Regions from separate parts of the Homo sapiens genome. Here region 1 is linked to region 2. Evidence: fine-mapped QTL for protein levels in blood plasma. A gene starts in region 2. The other region holds a variant in brackets. All regions are shown on one strand. Distances are from middle to middle.

What was found. PIP is the posterior inclusion probability: the model's chance that the variant is causal. Sun 2018 read protein levels with aptamers (SomaScan).
Region 1: its variant is fine-mapped to the plasma level of the SELPLG protein (Sun 2018, PIP 0.95).

Annotation. Positions count from the first base shown.
Region 1 is chr12:108,617,129-108,621,499 of GRCh38, reverse strand. No RefSeq gene overlaps it. Among named protein-coding and RNA genes, the nearest start is that of SELPLG, 15 kb to the left of the region's middle. RefSeq lists enhancers at 3,119-3,168, 3,749-4,208. The variant C/T (reference allele first, on the strand shown) is at 1,320.
Region 2 is chr12:108,631,590-108,635,929 of GRCh38, reverse strand. SELPLG (selectin P ligand) reads left to right here and starts at 2,036. Exons shown (of 2, transcript NM_003006.4): 1 at 2,036-2,190. It overlaps MIR4496 (microRNA 4496), which reads right to left and starts at 120; the gene lies at 60-120. LOC105369968 (a long non-coding RNA gene) reads right to left here. Exons shown (of 3, transcript XR_007063449.1): 2 at 1-1,599. RefSeq lists a silencer at 1,225-1,274 and enhancers at 2,515-2,564, 3,973-4,122.

The DNA.
Region 1 (4,371 bases), 14 kb after region 2:
ATTTTGCAGTGGGGGCATTTGGGCTCAACTATGAGTACAGCAGGGGCAAGTGGGAGCTGATAGCCAGGGAACAGGGTTGGATATCTGCAGCTGGAAAATTACCAAGAGGAAACATCAGGGGAAGGGGAATTCTGGCTAAACTGACTGCTGGGGATGGGTTCTCGGTCATTTTCTACACTGACCTAACAGGATTCATACTGGAGGCAGGCCAGGGTGCTCAGACATCACCGGGGGGATGGTGGCAGATGAGGAACGTGATCAGATATAGGAGGTGATCAGATATGGGAGGTGATCAGATATGGAGTGGTGGGGGGAGGGTTGTTGCTAAGCTGACTTAGCAGAGTTCTTGTTAGAACTGGATTTTATTTATTTATTTATTTTGAGATGGAGTTTTGCTCTTGTTGCCCAGGCTGGAGTGCAATGGCGCGATCTGGCTCACTGCAACCTCCGCCTCCTGAGTTCAAGTGATTCTCCTGCCTCAGCCTCCTGAGTAGCTGGGATTACAGGCATGCGCCACCACGCCCAGCTAATTTTGTATTTTTAGTAGAGATGGTGTTTCTCTATGTTGGTCAGGCTGGTCTTGAACTCCCGACCTCAGGTGATTCTCCCGCCTTGGCCTCCCAAAGTGCTGGGATTACAGGTGTGAGCCACCACGCCCGGCCCAGAACTGGATTTTAAAAGGAAGTGCACAGATGGGCCTAGGAGAGGACTCAGGGGCCTGACTGATTAAAGCTTGGCCAAGCACAGAATCTTTCCCACTCTCCAGAAGCTCACCCTGACCTCTCCTTTTCACTCAGGCCCTGTCTCTCATTAACAGCCAGTAGCTTATTGGTGATCCTAGATGCAGCCTGCAACCTTTTGTACAACTCACAGAAGCACTGATTTGCTGTCAAATGGTGGAAAAGTTCAAGCTGCCAAACTTTTTCTTAAAGGACCAAACAGTGAATACTGTAGGCCTTAACTGTTGCAACACCATAGCCTCTGTTGCAACAACTCAACTCTGTCCTTGTAGTACAAAAGCAGCCACTGACAATATGTCCATAAATGAATGCGCATGGTTGTGTTCTAATAAAACTTTATTTACAAACGGGCGGCAGGCTCATTTCAGCTCCGTCAGTTTGCTGACGCCTGATTTTAAGCATAGGGTGACCAGTCGTCCCAGTTTGCCCGGAACTTTCTTGATTTTAGCACTGAAAGTCCCATATTCCGTGAAACTCAGCCCCAGTAAACCAGGTTGGCCCTGCTATTTAAGCAACACTTGCATTATCCCATTCAAAACTCACACTACCTTGTGGGGGTCAGGTCACCGCCCAGTGGAT[C/T]CACCTTGCCTGCTGCCTAGACAGAGCCGATTTATCAAGACAGGGGAATTGCAAGGGAGACAGAGTAATTCATGCAGAGCAGGCTGTACAGGAGACGGGGATCAGAGTTTTTAACGACAATTTGGCGGGTAAGGACTTGGGAAGTTGGGAGTGCTGATTGGTCAGGTTGGAGATACAGTCATAGGGGGTTGCAGTGAGGTTTTCTTCATGTCTTCTGTTCCCGGCTGCGATGGCAGAACTGGTTGAGCCAGAATACCAGCCTAGGTGGTGTCAACTGATCCATCCAGTGCGGGGTCTGCAAAATATCTCACGTAGTGCTCTGAGGTTTTACAATACTGATGTTATCCACAGGAGCAATTTGGGGAGGCTTAGACTCTTGGAGCCAGAGGCTGCATGACCCCTAAACCATAATTTCGAATCTTGTAGCTAATTTGTTAGTCCTGCAAAGGCAGATCGGTCCCCAGGCAAGAAGGGGGTCTTTTCGGGGGGAAGGGATATTATTAATTTTGTTTCAGAGTCAAAACACGAACTGAATTATTTCCCAAAGTTAGTTCAGCCTAACTTTGGGGAAGGAATGAACAAGGACAGCTTAAAGGCTAGAAGCAAGATGGAGTCTGTTCGGTCTGGTCTCTTCCACTGTCATCATTTCCTCAGTTATAATTTTTGCAAAGGCAGTTTCAGTCAGATTAGAAAACCAGGATTTGGAGAGTTCTTGCTCTTCTGCTCCCAAATACCTTCCAGTCATTTCCATAGAGAGAGAAAGAAGCTGCCGCTTAAACAGACTCTGTTCTACCTTCTAGGAGAGGAATAAAAGTCATCTCAGGGGATAGTCTTTATTTTTCTTCTTGAAAAATACCTCCGGCTGGGTGTGGTGGTTCACGCCTGTAATCCCAGCACTTTGGGAGACCGAGGCAGGAGGACGGCTTGAGCTCAGGAATTTGAGATCAGCCTGGGCAACATGGTGAAACCCCGTCTCTACAAAAAATACAAAAATTAGCCAGGTGCAGTGATGTGCGCCTGTAGTCCCAGCTACTCAGGAGGCTGAAGTGGGAGAATCACTTGAGCCTGGGAGGTAGAAGTTGCAGTGAGCCAAGGTCATGCCATTGCACTCCAGCCTTGGCAACAGCAGTGAAAAGCTGTCTCAAAAAAAAAAAAAAAAAAAAAGAAAAGAAAAGAAAAGGAAAAAGAAAAAAAATACCTTCAATGGCCTCTTTGGAAGTGAAGGACTTCTTTCCTTGCCCCCAATGGTTTATCCCGGAAAAGGGGAGTTCACAGAGAAGGTTGAGTCTGGCAGGGGTTGGCTGTGGCTTGGGAGAGAGGGGTTGGAGGAAAGAGACAAGGGAAAGGTAGGAAAGAGCCGTCAGGGGGAAAGGCCATGGGACAGCATCGGGGAGGAGTGGGGAGAGGGCCCACACATATTGGAAATGCAGTGTCTGTCTCCTCCCCTGAACTTCTGGAAGGATCAAATCTGATACACACAGGCAGGTGTGTTCAAAGTGTCCTGGGGGTGCTGATGGAAGAAGGTGGGAGTGTCTGCCATGGGCTGGGTCAGTTAACACCCGGGGTCGGCAGGCTGATGGGTCAGGAGAGACTGAGTCTACCTCCCCTTTGGGAGGGATCAGAAAAATCAGAGAAGGGGAGCTGAAGGCTCCACAGCAGGGGGCTGTGGACTCAGGCTGAAGGACCTCTGAGTTGTTCCCCAGGGATCTTGTCACCTCGTCTTCCTGGGAGCTTTCCCCTATTTCCTGACAGCTCCTGAGGATGCTGTGTAACCACAGATTTCCATTTGCGTTGGAAGAGGGCCACCTTCCCTTTACAGTTTTCTCTCTCTCCAAGGTGTGGGATTTCATTCAGGGTGGGCGAAGCCGGGTGCTTGAAGCGGCCACCAGGGGGCGCCCGCCGCCAGCTCTTAGAGCAGGTGGAAGCCTGCGTTTCCCTTGGGCCAGACTTGGAGATCATTTAGCCAGGAAGGAGCCCCAAAGCCAGTGGCGTGCTGTTAAGTGTTTAACAACTGGCTTCCAATGGGAAAAAGTCCTGATTTGTAGCATTTGCCAATGTCTTCCATGTAAATACTCCCACAGCCGATTTTGAGCTACCAACCATTATATAGTTGATGATACAATAGGTGTTAGTAACAAGGGCATCGATCATCGGATAATGTAGTACAATTATTAGGAATTGGTGAGTTTTGAGTACTGATGACCTTGGCTTTTAATATAATAGAATTTAATTTATTAAACAACTGACACAAAATTCTGAAAATTTTGTTGATTAGCTCTCACGGGCAGATATAGTCTGGCTCCTGCACACCCCTGTGCCCTCCCCTCCTGCCTGGGCCTCCCATGCCCTTGAGGACCACCAGCCTGAATCACCCCACTCATCCATTCAGCAAACACATCCTGAACACACACACAGCTGCAATATCCCCGTGAATCCCCTCAAACAGCTCTCACAGACGGTTCTAGTATTCTCCCCATTTTACAGAAGATGAAACTGAGGATGAGAGCTAGGTGAAGTCACCTGCCCCAGGTCATGAAGAGGATCTGAGATTGGAACCCAGACCTGAAAGCCAGGATCTTACCACTGTGTCACGCTGTCCTTGAGATCACAGCGGGGTTCTGGGGGAATCCCACGCCCCAAAACCTCAGCCCTGCTGACCTGCCCTGGGGCCTGGAAGTCCCCCATTAGTCACCCTCTGTGGCTCCTGGCTGCTGAGGGAAGGCGCTGTTCCTTGGGAGGGTAACCGAGTACAGCGCAGCCCTCTCATTGCAGAGAACACAACACAGCAGAGCTGGGGCCTAGGACTAAGAGGGATGGCCGGGGGCAAGCAGCTGGCCTTTACTGAGCACTTACTGCATACCTAGTGCCTTGTCAAACAGTTTGTCTGCATTATCTCATTTAGGACTCAACCTCATAATGTGGGTGCAATGATTGTTCCATTTTCTTGCCAGGGAAACCGAGGTTCAGAAAGCTGAACCACTTGCTCCAGCCGGTTGCACGGTTAGGAAACCACACTGTGCTGACTTCAGCTCTGCCAGCAGGGAAGGAAGGA
Region 2 (4,340 bases):
CCTGGACTTGAGTCCTGGCTCTGCCATTACTCTGTGTGCCCTTGAGCAAGGCACATTCTCCCTCTCAGCTTCAGTTTCCTCATTTCTAAAGGCAGCTTCGAGGATTATATGAGCTGATGTATGCAAAGCACCTACCACAGGGTCTGGCATTGACCACAGGCTCAGGAAACGTTAAGCGTTTGTGTTGTGAGGCTTTGCAGGTGATGAAACTATTCAACTCTGCCGCTGCAACGTGAAAGCAGCCAGAGACAATATGTTTACACCAATTAGTGTGGCTGTGTCCCAAGAAAACTTTATGAAAACGGAATCTCGAATTTCGCACAGTTTTTATGCATCACAAAACATTTTCCAACCACTTAAAAATGTAACCACCATTCTTAGCTCACAAGCTGCACAAAACCACGTGGCAGGCTGGATGTGACAGACAGCTTGCAACCACTCACCTCCGCTAATCAGAGAGTGACCTGCAGGCAGTCTTGGGTGTGTTTAGAGTTTCTCAGTCCCCTGTCCCTGAAGGATGGCTATTTCCAAACCTGCTGGGGAAGGGTGAGGGGCCTGGGTTCTAGGGGTCTCACTTCCCCTCTTGTGGCTTCAGTTTCCCTGTCCGTGCCGGCAGGGTGAGCTTTTGGCTGTTTCCAGCTGCAGCTTCTTAAGGTGGCTGAGACTGTGTCATGGCGAACACCTGCTGGGTCTCTGGTTTTCATTTTAAAACAACCTGTGTGCGGCTGGGCACGGTGGCTCACGCCTGTAATCCCAGCACTTTGGGAGGCCGAGGCAGGTGGATCACCTGAGGTCGAGAGTTCAAGACCAACCAGCCTGACAAACGTGGAGAAACCCCATCTCTACTATAAATACAAAATTAGCCGGGGTGGTGGCACATGCCTGTAATCCCAGATACTCGGGAGGCTGAGGCAGAAGAATAGCTTGAACCCGGGAGGCGGAGGTTGCGGTGAGCCGAGATTGTGCCATTGCACTCCAGCCTGGGCAAAAAGAGTGAAACTCCATCTCAAAAAAAAAAAAAAAAAACAACTTTGTGCAAGGCAAGATATGAGTATCTTTCTGTGCATGTCCTGAGCCCTTGCCTGGTGCAAAGCCGCAGGGCAGATCCTGGGAGACCCCCCTATTCCCTCCCTTCTGGAAGTGTCTGGGTATTCTTAGGCCTCCCAGCCTTTGCCTCTGCTGTGCTCTCTGCCTGGGATGCCCACCTGGCTTGTCATCTCAAGTGCCACTTCTTGGAAGCTCCTCCTGTTAACCTCCCTCCCCCACCCAGGATGGAAGGAGAGGCCCCTCCCTTGCTCACCGCAGGATGGCACTCACTGCGCTGTGTCATTGTGGCATGATGTTCCACCGAATTGTTTACTCGCTGGCCTCCCCATTGGATGGAGGGCTACCAGAGGGCCACAGCCCAGAATTGCTGGCCTTTAGACCTCAGGGCATGCAGTCTGGAGTGCCAGAGTTGGTCAAATGAACAAATTTAGGATGAAGAAATAAGATAAGCAGGACTTGCCCTTGTGGTATCTGTAGTCCAGCTCCCTAGAGAGGCTCTTGGTTGCAGCTGAAAGGGCCTGTGCTGTGCATCTACAGAGAGTGTTTTGAGTCCTGCGAGAAGAAATACACCATATTTGCAAACCCTTTGAAGGTTCATATTTTGTGTTTTTTGCTCCCTGACCACCTCCCACCCCTCCCCACGCCCCACCAATCTTGGGCAAGAAGCGAGACCATTCTCCTTTTTCTCTGGTCACTCCTGTCCTTCAGGGGGCTCCCTCTGGCCCCGACTGTCCATTGCTGCTGAAGTAATGCTGTGGCCTTTCTCAGTTTGGGCCCCACCCAAAACCGAAGAACTTCTCCCCAGAAAGCTTCTACTTGGTTCTCAGTGTTTTCACAGTTATGGGAACCCAAGAACAGTGTCAGACCTAGGAGGTGCCCCACTACCACCCTGTCTTTATCAATGTTGTCACCAAAGCTGTCACAAACAATGGGGTGTGGGCTGTCACATGGCCCTGCCTAAGTAACCACATTCTCGCTTCCTCCTTCCACACACAGCCATTGGGGGTTGCTCGGATCCGGGACTGCCGCAGGGGGTGCCACAGCAGTGCCTGGCAGCGTGGGCTGGGACCTTGTCACTAAAGCAGAGAAGCCACTTCTTCTGGGCCCACGAGGCAGCTGTCCCATGCTCTGCTGAGCACGGTGGTAAGTGCTGGCTTGCAAAACCACAGGGAGTGGCTGGAGGTCCCCATGGGCCAAGGGCCTGCCTTATAGCTGCTGGCAGGCCCGGGTAGGACCGCCAGGCCCTTCTTGAGCTGCAGCACCTGGGGAGGGCAAACTGAGGCTCCTCCGACTCAAGACTAAAGTCTTCCTGGAGTCTGTGGCCTTATTCTGTGACTCTTCTGAATCCTGCTCCTGCCAACTTTTTTTTTCCTTCTTTTTTTGAGACAGGGTCTTACTCTGTCACCCAGGCTGGAGTGCAGTGGCACAATCATGGCTCACTGCAGCCTTAAACTCCTGGGCACAAGTGATCCTCCCACCTCAGCCTCCTGAGTAGCTGGGACTACAGGCGCACATCGCCGCATGCAGCTAATATTTTTACCTTTCCTAGAGATGGGGTCTCACTTTGATGCCGAGGCTGGTCTCAAACTCCTGGCCTCAAGCCTCTTGCGTTGGCCTCCCAAAGTGCTGAAATTACAGGTGTGACCCACCAGCCCCAGCCTCCCATTAACTTACTTCCCTCCCTGGCCAGTTTGCCTGCAGCGTCTGGCTTGGCGGCATTCTGATTTTGAAAATCAGAGAAACCATGAGTGTTTCCCTAGAAATGATCTTATCCTCTCCTTTCCTGGATGGGAAACTGAGGTCGGGAGAGGTGAAGGGATTTGTTTAGGGGCAGAGCTGAGATTAGGTCTGGAAGACTCCAGAAAGTAGGGGGAGTGCAGGATTTCTCTTGAAGCTGCATGTTATGGACGCATAAAAAAGTTCTTTTCAGAGAAAGATGCATTCTTCCCACTTTTTATAAGACTGAGGAAATGACACTTGTCTGTGGCAAACTATTAAAATATTAGAATTAAGATACTATTGTTAGCAAAAGGGAAAACAATAATAATAATAATAATTAGAATATTTGGCTGGGTGCAGTGGCTTACACCTGTAATCCCAGCCCTTTGGGAGGCCGAGGCAGGTGGTTGGCCTGAGCTCAGGAGTTCTAGACCAACCTGGGCAACATGGTGAAACCTCGTCTCTACCAAAAATACAAAAACTTAGCTAGGTGTAGTGGTGTATGCCTGTGGTCTCAGCTACTTGGGAGGCTGAGGTGGGAGGATCACTTGAACCTGGGAGGGGGAGGTCGCAGTAAGCCGAGATTGTGCCACTGCACTCCAACCCGGGTGGCAGAGTGAGACCCTGTCTCAAAAAAAAAAAAATTAGAATACTCTTATTAGTTTGTATTTGAGATACTTTCAGGACACTAAAAGGAAATGGTGGGGGCCAGTTGTGCCCTGCTGTACACACATTCACACACACACACACACACACACACACACACACACACACCCCATATTGTCGATATCTGGGCTTCTGTTGCCTGGAATTCTCTTCCTCTTTCCTCTTTCTTCTGTTTTCCTTTTTTTTCCATCTCTGACTTTGAGGCCCCCAGAGCCAGGCCCCTCAGTGGGCCGGGGCCTCAGAAGGTGGCTCCCAGGCCCTCAGACAGCCCCAGAGTCTCTTCCGAGGCCGTGCCCTGGGTGGTTGATGCCTCCCTCAGCAGGCTTGGCCAGCAGCCAGGGGAGTTAAACCTCAGAGAGCGGAAGGGCTGGGTTGCTAGGCTGGGCCCAGAGTGGGGCATTCAGAGGAGCTGGGGAATCAATCATCCGAGAACCTTGGAGGGTGGACAGTGCCCCTTTTACAGATGAGAAAACTGAGGCTTGAAGGGGAGAAGCAGCTGCCTCTGGCGGCATGGCTTCTGGCTGCAGGATGCCCATGGAGTTCGTGGTGACCCTAGGCCTGTGTCTCGGCTTCCTTTGCTGAACTTGAACAGGAAGATGGCAGTGGGGGCCAGTGGTCTAGAAGGAGATAAGATGGCTGGTGTGTGTGTGTTGGGGGTCTGTGTTTGTTAATCTGTCTGTCTACACAGGGGTGTTTAGAAAACTGTTTAAAGACAGTTGTTCAACTAACCAGATGTAGGTCTCATTGAATTCATTTGTGCCAAGTACCTTACTGCCTCTGGATCAGGCCAGCAAGTTTGGGTTCCAACAGGTGTAACTTGGTTCTTGGTGGGGTGGAGGGTAGGGAGGGGGGTGTAACAAAAAAATCTCAACTAACACTGTGGTTTGCAAGCCACCAAACATTAAACA